Regions from separate parts of the Homo sapiens genome. Here regions 1, 3, 4 and 5 are each reported to be linked to region 2. The links are microRNA targets in miRTarBase. Many come from high-throughput screens and were not tested one by one. Region 2 holds a microRNA gene; each other region holds the end of a gene's coding sequence.

Evidence for each region. The annotated mature microRNA hsa-miR-224-5p reads UCAAGUCACUAGUGGUUCCGUUUAG and lies in region 2 at 2,854-2,878, opposite strand. An mRNA with a match to its seed (bases 2 to 7 or 8) in the 3' UTR can be bound and repressed. Matches are read on the target gene's strand: a 7mer-m8 pairs with bases 2 to 8, a 7mer-A1 pairs with bases 2 to 7 and ends in A, and an 8mer does both.
Region 1: the mRNA of CDH1 is a reported target of hsa-miR-224-5p. Seed matches in the 3' UTR shown: 7mer-m8 at 2,113-2,119.
Region 3: miRTarBase lists GNA11 as a target of hsa-miR-224-5p. The part of its 3' UTR that is shown has no 7-base or 8-base seed match.
Region 4: miRTarBase lists EYA4 as a target of hsa-miR-224-5p. The part of its 3' UTR that is shown has no 7-base or 8-base seed match.
Region 5: the mRNA of HOXB3 is a reported target of hsa-miR-224-5p. The part of its 3' UTR that is shown has no 7-base or 8-base seed match.

Annotation. Positions count from the first base shown.
Region 1 is chr16:68,832,652-68,836,847 of GRCh38, reverse strand. CDH1 (cadherin 1) reads right to left here. Exons shown (of 16, transcript NM_004360.5): 16 at 1,311-3,558. The coding sequence ends at 3,349. Among named protein-coding and RNA genes, the nearest start is that of TANGO6, 8.8 kb to the left of the region's middle.
Region 2 is chrX:151,955,775-151,959,774 of GRCh38, forward strand. MIR224 (microRNA 224) reads right to left here and starts at 2,884; the gene lies at 2,804-2,884. GABRE (gamma-aminobutyric acid type A receptor subunit epsilon) reads right to left here. Exons shown (of 9, transcript NM_004961.4): 7 at 1-86. It overlaps MIR452 (microRNA 452), which reads right to left and starts at 3,938; the gene lies at 3,854-3,938.
Region 3 is chr19:3,120,265-3,124,442 of GRCh38, reverse strand. GNA11 (G protein subunit alpha 11) reads right to left here. Exons shown (of 7, transcript NM_002067.5): 7 at 444-3,454. The coding sequence ends at 3,264. It overlaps LOC124904615 (a long non-coding RNA gene), which reads left to right. Exons shown (of 3, transcript XR_007067092.1): 3 at 35-131. Among named protein-coding and RNA genes, the nearest start is that of GNA15, 14 kb to the left of the region's middle.
Region 4 is chr6:133,528,036-133,532,205 of GRCh38, reverse strand. It overlaps EYA4 (EYA transcriptional coactivator and phosphatase 4), which reads right to left. Exons shown (of 20, transcript NM_004100.5): 20 at 78-3,481. The coding sequence ends at 3,401. The region is part of intron 6 of TARID (TCF21 antisense RNA inducing promoter demethylation); the gene reads left to right. Among named protein-coding and RNA genes, the nearest start is that of EYA4-AS2, 74 kb to the right of the region's middle.
Region 5 is chr17:48,546,885-48,550,884 of GRCh38, forward strand. It overlaps HOXB3 (homeobox B3), which reads right to left. Exons shown (of 5, transcript NM_001384749.1): 5 at 1,986-4,000. The coding sequence ends at 3,450. It overlaps HOXB-AS1 (HOXB cluster antisense RNA 1), which reads left to right. Exons shown (of 7, transcript NR_102279.1): 4 at 1,491-1,579; 5 at 3,005-3,062; 6 at 3,456-3,518. Among named protein-coding and RNA genes, the nearest start is that of HOXB2, 3.8 kb to the left of the region's middle.

The DNA of each region.
Region 1 (4,196 bases), not on the chromosome of region 2:
GGGATGATGAAAAAGTTCTGAAGATAGTGGTGATGGTTGCAACACAATTTGAATATACTTAATGTCATTGAACTGTATACTTAAAAATGGCTACAATGAGGCCAACGTGGTGGCTCACTCCTGTAATCCCAGTACTTTGGGAGGCCAAGGAGGGCAGATCACTTGAGCCCAGGAGTTCAAGACCAGCCTGTGCATCATAGCAAGATCCCTGTCTCTACAAAACAATTTTTAAAATTAGCTGGGCGTAGTGGTGCAACACCTGTAGTCCCAGCTACTAGGGAGGCTGAGAGAGGAGGATCATTTGTGACTGGGAGATTGAGGCTGCAGCGAGCCGTGATTGTGCCACTGCACTCCAGCCCGGGTGACAGAGTGAGACCCTGTCTGAAAACTTAACAAAAGGGCTAAAATCATAAATTTTATGTTGTATTTTACAATAAAAAATTACCCAAAGAAAAAAGTCATACCCCTTCAACAGAGAAAAGTTTTAGGCTTACACCAGGGTTTCTTAACAGTGGCTGACATTTTGTGCTGGATAATTCTTTGTTGTGAGGAACTGTCCCGTGCAGGGATGTTTAGCAGCACCCCTGGCCTTGATGTGGTGACAAGACCACCTCCCCAGGTACTCCAGAAATTGCAAAATGTCACATGGAGGAGGGGGCTACATTCTTCCCCAGCAGAGAACCACTGGCCTGTACTCACTTGCTGACCCCGAGAACATCGTTTGAAACTTTGCTCTGTCCCGTCCTTCAGCTTGGCCCACACAGTCTCCCGTGGACATGGGAATTTTATTGGTTTCATCACATGCCACATGGATGGATACTGTTCAAATAAAGTTACCATGTGAATGTAGTTTCTCCCATGTTCATCCAGTAGAATGATAGAAACTTCTGGAGAAGTCACTTCAGCATGAAGTTTTTTAAAAATTTTTTTATTTTTTTGAGATGGAGTCTCCTCTGTCACCTAGGCTGAAGTGCAGTGGCGCAACCTCGGCTCACTGCAACCTCTGCCTCCTGAGTTCAAGTGATTCTCATGTCTCAGCCTCTCGAGTAGCTGGGACTACAGGCGCGCGCCACCACGCCCAGCTAATTTTTGTGTTTTTGTGGAGACAGGGTTTCACTACGTTGCCCAGGCTGGTCTCAAACTCCTGAGCTCAAGTGATCTACCTGCCTCGGCCTCCCGAAGTGCTGAGATTACAGGCATGAGCCACCGCGCCCGGCCTCTTTCTCCACGTTTTGACTGAGGCCATCTCCATGCATCTTTTCTCTTGACTGGAAATGTGGTGGAATCAAATAAAACAAATTTGACAATGGTTTAACAAAATTGTTTAATAAAATTTATAAAAATGCATCTTTGAGAATACTTTTCTCAGCTTGAATTGTTTTCCTTTTCCACCCCCAAAGAAAATACACAATTATCAGCACCCACACATGTATACACTCAAAACTACAGTGACATTCTCTACACAGAACTATATTCGATATAGCTTGAACTGCCGAAAAATCAAGACAATTCCAAAAAGTGATTGCAGGGTTGATTTTTTTCTCCAAAACACTTGAGAAACAGTAAAGCTATTTCAACAAAAGTCTTTTCTTTGATTGTCAAAAGTTGAAATTCACATTTAAATAAAAAGAGATCCAAATCAAGATCCTCACTACCCCCTACCCCTCAACTAACCCCCTTTAGGGCCACATTTTCTTCTTGCTCCTAAGAAAAAAATTTGGAATTTTGAATATTCTCGGTTTTCTGTGCACACCTGGAATTGGGCAAATGTGTTCAGCTCAGCCAGCATTTTCTGTAGACATCATCAAAAGCAGGCACTTGGGGATTCTGGGCTTTGAGTACAAACCACGGATCTTGTGTCAGAAACACATGTTGAGACTCCTCCATTCCTTCCAGAATTTTCAGAGATGAGGTAGACCCACCTCAATCATCCTCAGCATCAGTTTGCTAAATTGCCAGGCTCAATGACAAGCTCTCCTGCCATCTCCAAGCCCACTTTTCATAGTTCCGCTCTGTCTTTGGCTGCAGCACTTTAGGCACTATTCTAAGTCCTGGAGTATATCACTCTTGCTTCAGAGCTAAATAAACATTAATGAACACACTTACTCAGAACAAGTCACTGGATAGCTGCCCATTGCAAGTTACATACTCAGGAGATGAAAGAGGGAAGCCATTAAAGGTCTTCAGAGTAGACAATACCTAGTCAAGATGTGGCCAGACAAAGACACAAACTTCTTACCCTAAAAGAGCCCAATAATTTCTGCATCAGAGAACTCCTATCTTGGGCAAAGCAACTGAATTCAGGAGTGAGAGTTGATATTAAAACATGGAGGCTGGGCACAGCAGCTCATGCCCACAATCCCAGCACTTTGGGGGGCCAAGGCAGAAGGATTGCTTGAGGCCAGGAGTTTAAGACCAGCTTGGGCAACATAGCAAGACCCCATCTGTACAAAAAAATAAAAAGGAGGCTGGTGGGAGAACTGCTTGAGCCCCAGAGTTTGAGGTTACAGTGAGCTATGATCACATCACTGCATCCCAGGCCTGGGCGATGGAGCGAAACTGTCTCTTAAAAAATGGCAGGGAGTTGGGGAGCTGGGCAGGTGCAGTGGCTCATGTCTGTAATCCCAATACTCTGGGAGGCCAAGATGGGAGGATCACTTGAGCCCAGGAGTTTGAGACCAGCCTGGGTAACACAGGGAGACCCCGTCTCAAATATTTAAAAAATTAGTCATGCGTAGTGGTGCATGCCTGTGGTCCCAGCTACTTGGGAGGCTGAGGTGCAAGGATAGCTTGAGCCTGGGAGGACAAGGCTGCAGTGAGCTGTGATTGCACCACTGCACTCCAGCCTGGCCGATAGAATGAGACCCTGTCTTAAAAAAAAAAAAAAGGCAGAGGGACACACCAGTGTAGTAATGAGCAGAAGCACACAAATTTTTTTTAAAAAATTATATACACAAAACAACAGAACTAGAGTAGCTGACTTCTCCCCTTCTTTTTAAAAGTGAGACAAAATTCCTTAAGAAAATCTGCAAGGTGCTGGGTGAACCTTCTGATGCTAAAGTTGTTCTTCTGGAATATTAAAATTTGGGTATCTTTTGGACATCACCACCATGTAAAGAGTGATGGGAAAAAAAAAAAAGCTTTAAGAAATAAGTCGAAACTTTTCTAACACAAACTTATTAGAGCTATAAAGTGGAGAGAGTATAAAGCTATACTAACTGCATCACTAACCAGTCTCTTTTTTTTCCCCAGAAACTCATCTCAAGGGAAGGGAGCTGAAAAACCACCAGCAACGTGATTTCTGCATTTCCCAGCACATGGGTCTGGGGCCCGCCTCTCTCGAGTCCCCTAGTCGTCCTCGCCGCCTCCGTACATGTCAGCCAGCTTCTTGAAGCGATTGCCCCATTCGTTCAAGTAGTCATAGTCCTGGTCTTTGTCTGACTCTGAGGAGTTCAGGGAGCTCAGACTAGCAGCTTCGGAACCGCTTCCTTCATAGTCAAACACGAGCAGAGAATCATAAGGCGGGGCTGTGGGGTCAGTATCAGCCGCTTTCAGATTCTAAAGAAGAAGGGACAAAAGCATCTTTTAGTGAAAGGAAGGGCACACCTGTCATCTGGGGCAAGAAGTCTAGCAATATGTAAGGTACGACAATGCACCCAGACTTGTGGCACACCACGGAGCAGTGAACACCAACAACGTACATTTATACACACTGTCATGGAAGGATGCAGAAGCACAGGATATGTTGTTGATGGAAAGAGAAAGTGAAATGGTGAGTTATATGTAGGCAGGAGAGATGCAAGCACCAACCAGTCAGGATGGAGTCCCCATAGATCAGAGTGGGGCTGCCACACCACCAGCTGGGATGGGCAGAGCTGGAAGCTTTGCATACTGGTGCATGCAGGCTGCATTTCCACCCAGAAAGGCCTGGAAGGATAAATGCCAAATGCTTAACAGTTAAATCTGGGGAGTGGGGGTGTGGGAACTAAGGAAGGACTTGTATTTTTTTTCTTTTTCTTTTTTTTTAGAGACAGGGTTTCACTCTTGTCACACAGGCTGGAGTGCAATGGTGTGATTTTGGCTCACTGCAACATCTGCCTCCCAGGTTCAAGCGATTCTCCTGCCTCAGCCTCCCAAGTAGCTGGGTCTACAGGCATGCGCCACCATGCCCGGCTAATTTTTGTATTTTTAGTAAA
Region 2 (4,000 bases):
CACGGAAGAAGGGACATAGTTTTGAAAGGCAACATAGCCAAACCGCCTGCTCACATTGAAGAAAATCGTCATGACCATGAAGTCACCTGAAAGACACAAAAAACATCACTGCATTACAGTGCTGACACGACGGTCCCCCTTAGCAGGACGTGAACAGTAAGGGTCTCATTTTTCAGCTCACAGTATTCCCTAGGATAGAGGCATGATGTGACAATGCAATACATACAAATAGGACCAGAAGAAGCCCAGAAAAAAGACTTACTGCAAGACCAATGGCCAGTTGAGAGCTAAGCCAAGGCCAGAATCTTAATAGCTTCCTTCTCAGTTCACTGTCCTACACCCAATGTCTGTCTCTGCAGGTTGGCAAGAGAGTCAGGTGAAAGTGAAAAAATCAATTAGCCTTCTAGATATCATGCCCACGCAGCTGATATCCAGATGGCTGACTAAGGGCTTCATACCCTCTGAGGCACATCACACCTGCACTGCTGGCCCTCAGAATGTCTACTCTCAGCAAATGAGACTAGGGAAGTCTGTGCTGTGGTGGAGAAGCACAGAATGCTTTTGGCCTCCTTTCTGCACATTCATGTGATGGCAAAATGCCTTCGTGAGTGAGCACTGCTCCACAGGTGGTCAAAACCGGCACTAGCCTGCTCCCCAAAGTTTTGGTGGCTCCCTGTTTCACATGAGCTATACAGACTATCTGCACTCTGGAATCTGATGCTAAAGGCCCACCATGACCCGGCTCCCACTGACATTTTCCACACGCACCTTACCCAAAGCCAATCCCATCTGCTCACAGATTTCCTGAGATGGCCTGCAATTTTACACCAAGATTCTAACCCTGGACTCTTTGGTCTTAGTCTATGACCCCTAACCCAAACTGAGTGTTTCAGGGAAAGAGAAGAAAAAGCTTAAAATGAACATTTCAGTCAGCCCTCCAGAAGTCAGGTCTGTGGCATACACATCCACAGGGCAGACTGAGGTCCTCACAGTCACTTGGACATTGTGTCCTTGGTCATGGCTCTCAGCTAGACGGTCATGGCTCCTCCGGGACCTGATGACAACCTATATCTCTAGTTGGCATCTTCTTTTGTAGCATTCATGCTGCTTTATGCTCTGACACACCCTCCCCAAGCACTCTGCTGCTATCATGACTCCCAGGCTGGTGTGGGCTTTTCTCTGAGCCCAGGACATCATTTTCCACTTTCAGCATCACATTGCAGTTGCAATACTGTAAAATTCCTAGGCCTATAATTAGGTCGTCTTTTAAGTCCCTTCAAGGCAGGGCTCATGCAGGCCCTGTGGCTTAGCCCCTGCCCATCCAAGCTCAGAACAGCCTGGAACCCAGCAGACACTCAGCAACTCTTGCTCCTGTCAGGCAACAGCTTTGTAAAGCAGACCAGAACACTAACCTGTCCGTGTGTCCTCCTATTTTGGAAAGTGGATCAACTGCCCAGCAGGTCTGGGTGGGCTGGAGCTGAATGAGAAGAGCAGCCTTTCGTACTCACCTTGGCAGCACTGAAACTCAAGGAGCAAAGCTTCTCAGATTCTTCTGGAAGAAGGCAAGGGAGCGACCTGTTGTCAGTGGGAAACCTGTGTGTTGAGTATAGCTTTGGGATAGAACTCCTCCAGAGCTGCTGCACGGACCACCCTCGCACTTGCCTACTGGCCAGAATGTATTTATCAAAAGTCCTCTTGCCGTGGGATCTTGACTGCAATTTAAGACACTTCTAATTAGTTATACCCAGGCCCTGCAAAATTGCTGGGTTTATATAATATATTCTTGTTGCACGAAGATTTATTATTCTGTTGGATGATTCTATTTTAATTTTATTTATTCTGGCCAAAAAAGAACCTTCTCCGCTCGTCAAGAGATGCCAATTTGTCTTGAAGGACAAGAGAAAGATGCTAACACACACTTTCTTCTTCTTGAGGAGTGAGAGAAGCACGGGTAAGGAAAACAATATATCTGGGGCTGATGAACCAAAGCAAAAAAATATATGCTAAAGATGGTTTTCTGCTCAAACTCTTATCCTCTTTGACCAGATCATGGTTGGTCACTGCAGTGTCAGAGGGACACAATTAAATAGACCATGTCCAGAGGACTGGGACTAGAAGAATGAATGGACCCAAAGCTTTGAAGAATAAGGGAAGAAAAATAAACTAGGGCTATGTAGACTACAACAGACTATGATCCATGCCGGGAATGATGATGTTGATCGTTTAATCTCGGTCCTGTGAAACAGTGGCTGGACTAATGTAACCTGGACAGTTCCAAGGAAAAAGAACTAAGCTTAATGTGTGGAACTTCCAGAGACTCCAATTTCAGAAGAACAGGGAGAGTTTTTTGATGAACAGAACTGTCTAGAGAAGAAGGAAACCTCCTTGTAAGACAGTGAATTCCTGACCAGCAATAATATTCCATCAGAGGCTCCACAGCCATCAGTGAAGGGCAAGCCTCTCTCTGGAGGCAGGGCTGGACTCTCTTAGAAGCTCCTGAAGCAGAGATTCTCTGGATCAAGGTCCAAGATGGCCAGAGTAGCAGGCTACCACTGCATTCTGAACCCTTAATCGCCGAGCACGTAAGTATGCTCCAGATGGAGAGACCTGCCCCAGGGCCCAACTGGAAGAGTTTGAGACCAGTCCCAAAGATAACTCTGACATTGAAGGAACCACGTCTCCAGATCAACTAGTCTCCAGCAGAGGAGAAAGAAGACCTCTTTTCTCCTCAAGAATCCTCCTCACTCCCAAGGAGGTCTGGTGCTTACCTACTGTCATTGCTTTGATGATGATGCTGGCTCTGGGGCTTTGTAGTCACTAGGGCACCATTTTGAAACAATGCACAATCATCTACTAAACGGAACCACTAGTGACTTGAAAGCCCCTGGGCCTTATCTTCTCTGTCACTTTTGATGATGGGTCCCCACCTATCCGGGAAAAGCTGAGGTGCAGAAAACCAAGAGGCAGGCCCATGGTTAGCTGGCAGAAGAGCAAGGCTCCCAAGTCAAAGGTAGTAAAACCGCTTCCCCAGAGTCCCCAAGAAAAAGGGCAAGTATTTTTAAGGTAGCCCAGCCCTCTGCCCCTGCCTAATACTGTGCAAGCAAAGCTCTAGCCACATGAGCATGAGCTTTCCCTCATCCAGAGACTGACTCAATAAATGAAACAAAAGCAGATTTTCTGCCTAGTCACATGGTAGCAGAACAAGATGCCTCTCACGACAAATGGCTGGTTGGGTGACTGGCTCCATCCACATTCTGGAAACGATGAGGGCAGTGCCTTCACTGCCCTGAACTTGGTCAGGATGTGTGAAGAGTGTTTCCAGGGTTGCTCTGGGAGCTACCCTGGGGAGGTCCCTTGGCTCCTCATTCAGGTCACCTAGGAACATAAGTGAAGGTGCTCACATCTAATTGGGAGCTGAAGTGTAAGATACCCAGGACCTTCCCCTTTAGTCTTTGTCAGAGAAAAGGTCAGAAAACCAGTGGCCACTATGTCTATGTGGAATCCACCATGAAGCCTTTGATAAGAATCTGTGCTTTTCAGACTTGTTCCTTTAAGATAAATGTCAATGCAGCAGCCAGTGTAGCTGCTGTAACTTCCTCCAGACTTTCCCAGCCTTAAACTAGCTGACATTAGAACTCTAGCCTCCACCTCCCACTACAATGGACTTTGCTTCCCATTCAACCAGACTGGATTGGTTCTGGGTATGGAGAACTCACACGAGCTCCATTCCCCAAAGTCATCCAAAGAGGTCAGAGTTGTAACCTCGAAACTGAAGGGTCTGCATGAAAAAGCCAGCTGCACATTCCGACAGCAGCAGAACTTTATCTACTTACCTAACCTCTCAAGGAGCTTGGCAAAGCACTTACTTCTTTGCAGATGAGACTGAGACATAGTTACAAAGTCTCAGTTTCCTCTGCAAACAGTTGTAAGTGCTTAGCAATTATAAGACAGGAGCCATGTCTTACAATGTTTGCACGGGATGACTGCAAAGCATTTGTAT
Region 3 (4,178 bases), not on the chromosome of region 2:
AATTTATCTGTATTTTACAATTTTTTTTCAAAAGGAAAAAATAACTGAAGGAAGGCTGCAGAGGTCCCACATCCGCAGCTTACAGAAACGGAGGCCCGGAGGGCATGATGTCCCCACAGGTGCCCTGGAAGGTGAGGGGCAGGCTGGCCTGGGACCTGGGCTCCTCCCCGTCTCACTCCCTTGTCCCCAGCCCCCAAACAAGGTGGCATTTCCCAAGCAGGTTGCTCTGGCCTGGTGCTAGTGAAATGAACTTGAAGTGAAGGGTCAAACAAGATGACAGGGGAGGGGCCCCGGGACACCGTGCGGAGGCACCCAGGCGGCCCCACTGAGGTCAGGCAATGCCCTAGGTAACTCCAGGGCTCCTGGGGGCCAGGCCTCTGCACACTTCCCCCCAGCCCCCTTTGAAGGACAACAGGAAATAAACCAGAAGGGGGCCGCCAGCATTTAGGAACAAAATTTATTCCAATTTAAAACAGAGTTCATTTCAGGAGAAAGATATGAAAAGTCGACTTCCATCGGTGTCTGGATTAAGGGTCAGGGCCGGTGGCTGTGGGAGGTGACACTGAGCCGCTCCTCAGCCCCTCCTCCCATCCCCAACGCGCACAACACATGCATTTCAAATGGTAAAAGGCTTAAAAACAGCTTGTATAGAATATTCTTTTTTAAATAGATTAAGGTTGAAATTGTCTGAAATCAGGACTGTGTAATATACAAGTATCACTGGGTCCCGTCCGCCAGGCCGGCCACAGGATCTGCTGCCACCACTGGGGGACATTGGCACGGGGATGCCTCCCTGGGGGAGCCGGGGGACCCAGGGCATGGGTTTGCAGTGGCCGGGGGCTGCTGCCGCCCGGGCGTAACATGGTCGGAGAAGGTGGTCGGCACTCACGAGAAATCGTTGGCAGGTGAGATTCACCAAGGTAAAAACACACACCCCACATGCCCACGTGGCCCCACACGTGGCAAGGGTGGGGGTTGGCTGTCCTTGCCCCTGGGTGCCACTGGCACGAGAACCACTGCCTGGGACTCTCCTGGGGCAGGCACCCCTGCCCTGGGCCTGCAACACCTACCTCTGCTTTTTTGGGGGGCAGGGGATCAGGCACTCAGACCCAGAGGATCCAGGCCACGACGTTTTGGCGGTCCCAGCCCGGCTCTGGGATGCTTGGCACGCCCCCTCCCTGGGAAGGCCTAATACTTAGCCCCGCAGCGCCCCGGCCTGCGTGCTGGGCGACTCCACCCTCAGGCCACGGCCAGGTCACCTTGTGCAATCTAGGCCCTCAGAGATGCCACAAGCACAGGCCCCCCAGAGGGCTCCGCTGCTGGAAAAGGTTGTAGCGGCCCTGCCAGGGGTGGCCCCATCTGCTCCCCCAGGGCACCGCCGGGCCCCAGCACTCGCCATGGGGGGCTTCTGGCACCAACCCTCTTAGGTAGACACCTGGCACAAAAAAAGGACGCTTCCGGGTGAGACAGAAGTGGTGTGGGGAAGCCGGGGGGGGGGTATCCCGCCAGCCCCGTCTCCCCATGGGGCTGATCACCAGAAATGTAGCTGCCCTGACCTGGTCTCCCCTGACCCTTCCACGGGGCTCCCCGCTCTTCTGCCCCCAGAAGCCAGCAGACAGCCCTGCGGACGAGGAGGCCAGGGCAGGCCTGACAGTGGCGGGCAGGCAGGCGGGAACTGCTGGTTGGAGTGGTCGTATTTTGGGGCTGTTTCTTTTGTCATCTGTCGAGGCCAGAAGCAGCCGTGCAGGGTCCCGGTGTGGCGGCGGGCGAAGGCAGCACAGGCGATCCATCCCTGGGACAGCTGTGCGAAGCCCGGAACCACAGGGCGCTGTAGTGTTCAGTCAACAGCAGACGAAAAAGCCACCTCCCCAAACACAGTCCCCTCGTTCCCCACCTTCCGAGTCTCTCGGGGAGAACCAGTCTCGGTGCCTCAGTGCCTCAAGGGGCCCCGGGAGGCGGCCCCCGGGGCTGTGGCTCAGTGCGGCGTGGCCTGGCGGGCTCCCCCTCGGGCCGTGGTCGTGGCCAGCCAGGCCTGGAAGCTGCCCAGGCCGGTGCCTGCCACCACCTTCCACGCGCCCCTGGCCAAAGTGCGAGTGCTGGCTTCCCGCTCCCCGGGGGCGGCGCTCGGGGGCGGGCGCAAGTGCTTGGGACAAGGCCACGCACAGAGCTGCCGGCCACGTCCCTCTCTCTGCCTCTCGGGTACACACCTGAGAATATTCTGTAAAAGTCCCCACCCACCCTCGCTGTTTCCAAATTGGTGACATCACAAAGCGGAACAAAACAGAAACGCCCCCATCCAAGTGGCCTTTCTCCCAGTGTCACCGGGGGACCATCCCTCCAGCCGCCCAGCCCACGTGGGCTCCGGTGGGGTGCGCTCTAGCCAGGGCAGGGTGGCCGTGCAGCCCTCTGGAGTCCCCGGGCAGCCCCAAGCAGCCAGTGTTGGCCCCGGAGGCACAGCCCAGAGAAGCCCCCGTGGCTCCAGCCCGGGGACCCTTCCCAGCCTCTGCAGAGGGACGGGGAACCCGGCCATGAGAGAGGGCCCAGGGTGTTTCTTCAACCTGTGAGTCAGGCGTTCTTTTTCCTCAAAAAAATAAAATAAAATAAAAGGTTAGGCACTTCCCAGGGTGGGCGACCGAGGGAGCCCCCCACCCCCTCTTCAGGAGTCCAGTGGGCAAAGCACAGCGTTGATGGGTGAAGAGGCGAGGCGCGCTGGGCGTCAATAACTTAAAAAAGGGGAAAAACGTCCGTCTCCGAGTCTCCACGCCTTTTGTGATGAAGAAAAGAAGCGGGCAGGAGAAAGAAAAAGCACGTGGGGTTGGAAGGACAGCCACGGGGGGCTGCGGTGTGGGGGCGCGTGACTGGCTGCAGGGCGGGGCCCCATGCTGGCTGGCGGGGGCTCTGTGAGGCCCAGAGTCACTGGGGGCACGGGGCGCTTGTGTGTTTTATGTTTCGTTGCTTTTTTTCTTTCTTTCTTTTTTTTTTTTTTTTAGAAAAAAGCGAGCCATAAGTCAAGGCCAGAAAAAGGCTGCCTTTGCCGTTGACAAAAGGTGAGAAGGTGCGCGAAGTGTACGGAGGGAGAGATGTACATCCCCTGATAACTGTGAAATAAAAACCATTTGTTAAAAATATGAAAAAAAAAAATCTCCTCCCGCGGGCAGAGGCCCCGGCCCGGACTCGGCAGCGCCACCCGCCCGGCAGCCGCAGGCTCCGTGGAAGGAAGGTCCTGCCCCGTGTCTCCATCCCGTCTCCCTGGGCCTGGGCGCTCAGACCAGGTTGTACTCCTTGAGGTTGAGCTGCAGGATGGTGTCCTTCACGGCCGCGAACACGAAGCGGATGTTCTCCGTGTCGGTGGCACACGTGAAGTGTGAGTAGATGATCTTGTCGCTGTCGGGGTTCAGGTCCACGAACATCTTCAGGATGAACTCCCGCGCCGCCTGGGCGTCCCGCTGGGGACCTGGGGGAGGGCAGAGGGTGAGGCTGTGCCCCAGCCCGGCCCAGGGCAAGGGACTCGTGGGCCCCTTTGTCACTCCCAGGGGATGAGCGAGTAAGGCCCACGGCCCACCCAGCTCGACCCCCAGCCCACTGCATGCCTGACGGGCCGCAGCTCCCCTCCCTCCCCAGGTGAGCTGCGGTGCCAATCCCACTGTAGCCCCAGGGCACTACTGTCACGGCCCAGGCCTCCAACCTGGGGCTCTGCACCCACCGCTGCTCCCTCTGCTCAGCCCTCTGCCGGCCTCTATCCACTCAGCTCCACAGCCACAGCCTTCCAGGGCAGGCCTCTGGCATGGCTGCCCTGCGAAGGCCCAGGGTGAGAGGAGAGGCCCCCAGGGCTGGGCACAGAGCCTACAGAGCAGGAACAGTGGCCCCCACCCACCCACGGTGCCCCTGCTGCAGCCAGGCCTCAGAGACATCCAGGGGCTCCAGCAGGGGCGCTGCTTCCCACCGGCCACCCCTGCCCCTCCACCACCCTGGACAATGCAGGCGACCCGCCCAGTAACTCCTGCCTGCCCCGGTGGAAAGGCCCCTGGGGGTGTTCAAGGGGCTGCTCTGGGGACTGGTGGGACAGGGGTCTATGCCCCAGTCCCTTGGCCTCCCCCCACCAGGGCTCTCTGAGCCCACAGGACAGGCTGCTGGGCAGGGGCCACGTGCGGCTGGAGCAGGTGCAGCGCCCCCCGCCA
Region 4 (4,170 bases), not on the chromosome of region 2:
ATGAAGACCAGAAACCTAAATACAAATTTCACATGATTTAGAACCAAGCTAAATAAACACACAAAAACTCTACAACATGGGAGGGTGAAGGAAATGAAAACAATTGCAAAGGTATTTATTGAGAAATAGTAAAGATATACATATTTTTACAAGCTTTTAATATTAATTTACATTTCTTTTAAATTATGTAGGCCCCAATAATCTATACTTTACTAATACATAACAGAAACCCTTGACATTGTGAGATGTCCATAATGCTACCGTAGTTGGGAGTCAAAGTGCAACTTTGGCTCATGATGCTTAAGTTTGTTTTCAAAAGAAATACTAAATGCCATATTCACTGAGAATGTAGGCTTGTCATAAACAAATGTGCTTTAAAAAAAACAACTTCATATAGGAGCATGCTGTTGACACTATTCTGAATCTTAGCTCATTGCGGACTAAGGAGAAAACATTTTTAGAGACAGTTATTACCTACTTGTCGTGTGCAAACTGTATGATTCTAAAATATGTTTTTGCCTCTGAATTTGATTTACAAAATTTTGCAGGGGCATAGTGTCCTAATTGTATGCTATAATACCATAGCCAGGCCACCTATTTTGTTATGGAAATTACATGGTCTTGATATTTTTAAGGTGCAACACAAGGTGGTTATCTTTCGTAGTAATATACCAAGCTGTATACATAATAGCCGAAAACCCACTTTAGTTACAGAACATTTTTCAAACTGGTTTACAATAAGGCACAATATTCCATATGTCAATAGGAGGTGGGAACTGCCAAGGGGTTGGTTTTGTGTTTGTTCAGTTTTCGTTTTTCAGATTAGAAAGGAAGAGGATTTTCTATTCCTAAGGTGGGAAGGGAAGAGTTCTAGTTTGTGCATACTCAACGTCCCATGGCCAAGCTGTGATGCTGGCTCGTGGGCCTGCACCATTGTTGTGCCAGACAAGCTGTTCTCCGTCAACCTTGCATTTAGGTTTTATGCCGGCAGCCTCTTCTGAACACAGAATCAGAAAAAGAGATGTGTGTGAGAAACTGCACGGGGTGATGCAACCAGCCGGCTTCTCTTTGCCCTTCCAAGGGGTGTTTCTTTCTGCACCCACAGACTTAGCAGCATAAAAAGCCTTGCTTGTTTGATATGAAAAGACTTACAAATTTAGATGTAATGCCACAATTCTATCAACATTTAAAGAAACCAGCTATACAGTAAAGATAATTTGTTTTTATTCACAGTAATAAATATTTAAGGTTTTAGTGCACAACATAATTAAGTACTGATAATCAAGGCAACATTTAAATTTTTTTAACTGCTATTTTCAAGCTAAGGGCCAACAGAAGTATAAGATTTACTATCATTATTTTTATATTATTAAAGGTATTCCAACTTTAATTTGCCTGGAATAGTACTTGGGGCAGATGCAGCCAAAAGCTACAAAATTTAAAGGATTAAGTTTAAGGTTTAGATAATGAAATCACAATCTTGTACAAAATTGGGATCTCAATATCTTTCTACCCAATATAAACATGGCCTTAGCATTCAGTAAAGAAATACAGGTTTGTAGCCTAAAGAAATGAAATCATATTTCCACAGTGAATGTTGTGATCTGTGAGCAAAATGTAGACTTTATTGAAGCCACAGAGGCCTCAGTTGATGAACTCATGAACCAGCCTCTGGCTAGGGGCACTGACTAGTAGCCTGACTCCAGGATCCACATTATGACATTTTAAACACAGAACTGCAGGTGCAGACACCATAAAAATACTCTAGTTCTTAAAGTCTTAAATTTCCACAAGGGAAATCGTGTCATAGGAAATAAGAGGAGAACCTGTATCGTGTTCCCAACATGGGCTACACACAAGGAAAAAAACCATGCAAACACAACGATGATGGGCTCTTCTTGTAATGAATGCCATCCGTTGCGCAGTGACAATACAGGCAGAAACTAACAAACATATGCAAGTCTGTTACGAGGAGAACCTGCATTGATGTATTCAGATGGAGAACCAGGTATTATTTTACTGTTGTCATTTCAGCAGCGCTGCCAAGATCCAGCGCACTTGCTAATTTAATTTATGATGATATTCTAGGTAAAATTTTCATAGACTCATTGCTTTCATTAGACACCATCTGGGAGAACTGCCTTCCATTTCTGATGATATTATCATTTTTGCCATGGCATTGGGAATAAACATACTTAGCTTTATTTTAAGCCCTGTGCACTCAATGTGAATTTTATGCCATGTTCATGGCACATTCTAAAAAAGTTTATGTGATAATTGCTCATGATTTGCATGATAATATCCTCCTCTATGCAACTTACACATATCAAAAGTCTCAACCTCAAAACTGTGCAAGTTGTCATGAATATGGCTCTTAGTTTTCTCCAGTAAAACTGTAGAAGGGGTACTTGAGACTTCTACATACATTTCACTTTCTAAGTAAAGGTCCCACAGTCTTTCCCAAACCTTCCACTCATGGTTGGATGCGCAAATAGTTGCCTCATACAATTATTGGAATTATTAAGAACCCAAATGAAACACAAGCTTTCCTTTATTATTGTTGTTTTCTTATTGCAAAAAATACTCAGTTTCTTGCTGATGCGGTAATTAAGCTCTGAGAGCTTGACTTTTAAATTTGGTCATGTTAAGAATCATCACAAAGGTTTTTTTTTTTGTTTTTTTTCATTATCTACAGAGATTTTAACCAAAGTTACATTGTAACACACAAATGCTGTCTTGTCTTTAAGGCACAACACATCAGTATGAACATTCTGTTTGCCAAACTTAAAAAAGAGACAATATTATATTCCCATTTCCCCTCCCATTCCCCTCCCCAACAAAAGAAAGAAAAATTGCATCCACTTTGAAAGTCAGCTGCTAATAAAGTCACAGTAAATTATTTTCATCAATAATTTACACAAATTACATGTCTAAATAGGACTGTCCTTATACAGTCTGAGTGCATTCCAATTCAGATTTTCTGGGTTAGGTAGGCTAAAGTCAGATTCAAACCTCAGGGCTGAGAAGATCTCCCATTTTGAGGAATGTTGTTGACCACCTTGTCAGACGGAGCATGTGTGTTGCTGCTTTGCCAGGGTAAGAGTTCTTTGCTAAAGCTGCTCATTCCAGTTTGGACTCATTTGGTGTGTACCAGCAACCTCCACAGATTTTTAAAAAACCCATTAAAGTGTTGTAAATATAAGACCATAGAGTTTCTTTTCTGTAGCACTAAAGTTTAACTCCATTCAGCAATCTGAATTCTTCATTCTGGAATTTTTATTCCAAATATGATTTCATCCATTAAGACAATTTATATGTGTAGAGCCAGAGGCATTGAATCACACATAAAAATTCAGTGTACTTGAAATATAAAAAATGGATCTCCGGCTAAAGAACACAGTTACAAATACTCTAATTCCAGTGCTTGGTGGAGAGCCAGGAGGTCTGAGTGACTGGATATCCTCCAGAAGGGCATGTTGTGCTGTGTGGTTAGGAGAAGGAGGGATGGGAGAGAGAAGGGGAAGGAATGAGGCATGGAGAGAGATCACAACCATTGTCTCAATGAAGCAGCAGCACACACAGGGATGTGTGGTCCACCCAAGTTCAGGGGAGAGAGTTTAAAGGCGGGATGATCATATGTGAAGGCTTGGCAGCACCAATATGGCACTGTCAAAGTAACAGAGAAATAGATCTGAACTGGATTTTAATGAGAATAATAGCAAATATTAACATTTCTTAGATAGTTTAATATTTATTCTGGAAGTATCGCTACCAACATCAACATCTGGGAAAGCAAGTGGGCATCAAAATCCTACCTGGCTAATGGAAAGCAAGTTTTAATCAGTGCATCACTCCTACGGGCCTCTCAATTAAAAATAAAATGAAACAAAATGACAAACTTCTTAATTTTGTTAATCTAGGAAGAAAAGAGGGTGAATTCCTTTCTGTATAAAAATAATTTGAAGCAGGACTACATAAAGTAGAAAAAAAAGGTGGGGATTATAACTTTCTTACTTGTCTGGGACAACCAATAACTTAAGCCAGTAGAGTCGACCTGATTTATTTCACTGGCGTAGAATTGAGAGAAAGTACTCTAGCATACATTTTCAATGGGGAAGATATCTCCAAAGGGACACAAATGAGCTCTTGTGGGGCAGAAAATCTTAGACA
Region 5 (4,000 bases), not on the chromosome of region 2:
TGACCTGGGCAAAGTGGCCAGCGACAGTAGTGTGCAACTAGGCTCCAAAGAAAACAATTTTTGCCATTTAGAGGTGTGGATGGGGGTGGGCATAGAATAATCCAAATAGTAGCTGTCTGGAAGTCATGCAGGGAGGCCTGAGAGTGGGTTCTCCCTCTGGCCACCCCCTTGAACACCTCTGAAAGTTTAGCAACAGCTTCTGTAGCTGGCTGAAGGATCCAGAGCTTATCTCAGGCAACTCGGGCAGACTGTCCCTGCAGGAAATACAGCTCTCTCTAACCCTCACTGACAGATTTTATGGCCAGATTAGCAAACAGCGGAAAACTTGGGTGTTAAAAGGGGCCCAGAGAACCCTCCTTTTCAGAGACATCCCTCCCCCGCCCCCCTGTCCTGCTGTGAATTTAACAGCACGGATATTTTACCCACGTCTTTGGCTGCTTTAGCTGAGCGCCTGGAATCTTCCAAAGAGAAGGATAGGGAACACCAAGCCAAGTTGGTTCTTATTTTTCTTGTTTGCAATTCCAGCTTCGAGCCAAAGCTCTGTTTTTCAAACTTAAGCTAAATTCTCTTTCTTGGCCTCTTTCCTGCTAGATAAATAACAACCCAACCCAGCCCCAGAGCCAAACATGGTGCTTCATCTAGTTATATCATTCAGAAAATGTTATTCAAGGAAGAAGAGAGAAAGAGAAAGAAAGAAAAACCCTTGAGCGTTATTTGATCCCAATCAAACTTTGCACGCTCTTATGCCTTTAAATTATAGCCTGACCCAATGCTAAATTGCTTGCTGCTTGGATGAGTCCAGTTAAAATCCTACTTGGTGGTGGGGAAGGGGGAGGGCGTAGAGTTCAGGTTGCTTTTTTATTGTTATTTATTGTTGCATAAAGACTATAATTACTAACCTTGGACTGCCAGGATGCAACATAAAAATGAAAATCAGCCCTCTCTTTAAGGCAGGGCCTGGAACGATTCTCACTCCCCCAACATCACTACCACCAAATATATGCTCCTAATTAAGCAATGCGGGCACATCGCTTACAATTAGAATTATGCAGCTCTTCAGCAAGCAGCCATCGCTTCTCTTTCAACGAATTAGCTCCATATTTCAGCCGCCCTGTCTTCTCGCTCTTATCGGCTCCAGCGACTCGGCGGTGACATTTCATCTTTGACAGACCTTCTCTATTTTCACTCCAATGTGATAAAACTTTTATGGAACCACAACTAAGAAATGAAGTTTTCCCAAGGATGATGGAAACAGAGCCGCACATTAGCCTGGGGACCGTTTTATTTACGCTTGGATCCAACAGCTTCTCCCACCCTCCTCTCCCCTTTCTCTGGCAGGGGAAATCGAACGTGCTTCCCCTCCCTCCGCCTCGAGTTTTATTTAGTGATTTAATTTTACTTAGTTTTAAAGTTTGACCTGAGAAGTCTAGGCCTCAGTTTTGTTTTTTTTTTTTTTTTAGATTAATCATTTTTCTTTGTTTTCATTTTAGACCCAATGGTGGTTGGGCTTCGGGTCACGTGACACCTTCTTTGTGGCTCCGGAAGAGGATTGTGAAGTTTAGGTTTCGTGGAAGAAACCGTAATCGGCCAGATTTTCTTGGTGGTGGTGGGAAGGGGTGGGGGGTGGGGGGTGCATGGACGCTGTGGCCAAAGGAGCTAACAGACGAAAGGTCAATGAATGAAAAACCTAGAGGCATACAGGCCAAACAGAAAAACCTACAGAGAGCATCCAAGAGTCCCCCGTTACCTCCCAACTTGCTACTTAAACCACAGCTGAAGAAGTTGGCAAAATGTTACAGGCTCTTATGAGTGAGAAAATGGTATTTAAACTTAAGACATATCAAGGGGGAGACAGGAACCTGGGCAGTGGACAAAAAGGCCAGGGAAGGGTCTTCAGTGTCCTTGTCCTTGTCCTTCTTCCCTTGGGGGAAATTTGGCAGTCAGCAGCCTTGCTCTGCTATCTAAATTGGACCACCAGGACAAGATAAAATTGATAACAGAAAGTTTATTCAAGAATTGTTTGACAGACAACCCTTTTAGGTAAGGAAAAAAGTAACTACTGAAGAACAAAGAAAGTTCCAAGAGGGAATTAACTCTAGTTCTACAAATTCAGGACTATACAGTGACGATTAGGAGCTGAGTTCATGCCTTTTAGAACTAATTACAATTGTTCGTAAGTACGAGTTTAACATAAATCTACAGCTCTTTTCTAGAGTACAATAGTAACTAAAATAGCTGGTTTTACATGACAGGAAACACAATGTCCTTTGTAACAGGTAAATACTAAAAAAGTACAATTTTTTCCTTTTTTTCCCTCATATAAATACATAATGTAGGGGGATAAATAATACAAAAAAGAAAATATTTTAACAGGCTATAACCAATAAATATATATGAAAATGTTCACTAGAACACACGCTTTTTTGAGCAATGCTGGACTTCTGCAGGCCCAGACATCTCTCACAGTTGTTTTTACATCCATTAAAATGTAAATTCTAAGTGCAACAAAAGTGTCCTGTCAGGAGGCTGAGCAAGGCACACAGGCCCTGCCCAGCCCCTGCCTGGGACAGTTTGTTCAAATATACCCTGTTTTCACGTTAAGTCAAGAGAGCAACAGAAGAAAAGTATAGAACCTCGTGTCACCAACTGCTTTCTGTGGAGAGGGGGATGGAGCTGGAGCTGAGATGGAGGCAGCAGAATGGGCAAACCTTCAGTCCTAACAACCTGCCTGCCCTAGCCTCCACACTTTTCCTTAAAAAAAAATGTATATAATTTATAATATAGGCAGCTCTTTCAGGATCTCTCACCATCCCTGAGCCCTCTAAAAACTGTAATTGATGGGGGTGGGATGTATAGATATGAATGTTCTAGAGCAGAAAAACCGGGGGCTAGAAGTGTACCTCAATAAACCTCAAATGGGAACAAATTTGAGGTTTTGGGAAAGTTGGAAGGGAACGTGTTTTGTGCCTTTTGGGTTTGAAATGTGTTTTCTTATTTTTTAAAGGATAATTGAGGAAAAAAAAAAATCAAGATTTGGGGGGAATTACCTACAAAGATGTAAGGTAAGTCCGTTGGTTGGTGATGGCCTAGCCATCTTGTCTGGTTTTTAAAATGTGCTTTTCTGCCTCGTCCTGTCTCGTCTTCCTCTACCCCACTCCCGGGCGTGGAATTCCAACTTGGTAGTGCTGGAGCCCTGGGGTTGATGGGGTCATCTCCAATATGATGTGGATTCCTTTCCGATGGGTTGGCAGGCAGATGGAACAAGGGGTGGAAGACTTAAAAGCAACCTCTCAGGCCAGGGGGAAGGGAAGGAGCTCCAGGCCGGTTCTGACCAGGAAGCCTGGGTACCACCTTCTCTGGCTCCTCTTTTCAGACCTCCAGGTTGCCCCCCAGAGCTCCACAGTCTCTCTCTTCCTCCCCATCCCCTAATCCTCGTTCGCCCTTTCCCATCACAGGTGTGTTAATTTGGGCGCTTCTTGGATTCTACCCTGAGGAGGAGGCGCGTGGTGAGAGGAGAGGTCTGTGTAGGTGGGGTGGGGTTCGCAGGGTCCGTGGTGCTGGCTGGGCGCCATAGGGGGCGCCCCGTTGTAGTCCAGGTTCCCGGAAGGGTGATGGGAAAGGTGGTTGAGGCCATAGAGGGAGGGGCCGGCAGGGGGCGGCAGCGGATCCGCGTAGCCGCCCCCGCCCACGTACACCGGACTGCCCTGCATGGTGGGCGTCCCGTAGGCGCCCCCGTTGGCTTGGAGGACGTGCGGCTCATACTCGGGCGCCGGGGTCGGAGGGTACTTCTGCGGGGCGCCGCAGCCTTTGAGAGGGGGCTGGTAGTTGGAGGGCAGCGCGTAGGCATTCTGGTGGGCTTTACCGAAGGCGGGTGGGGACGGGCTCTCGTAGCTGGGGGTCATGGAGTGTAAGGCGTTCATGAAGCCGGCCGTGGACTGCATGGGCTGCGGGGGGCTGCCGGCTGGAGATGGGCCCCCCGACGACGAGGCCAATCCCTTGG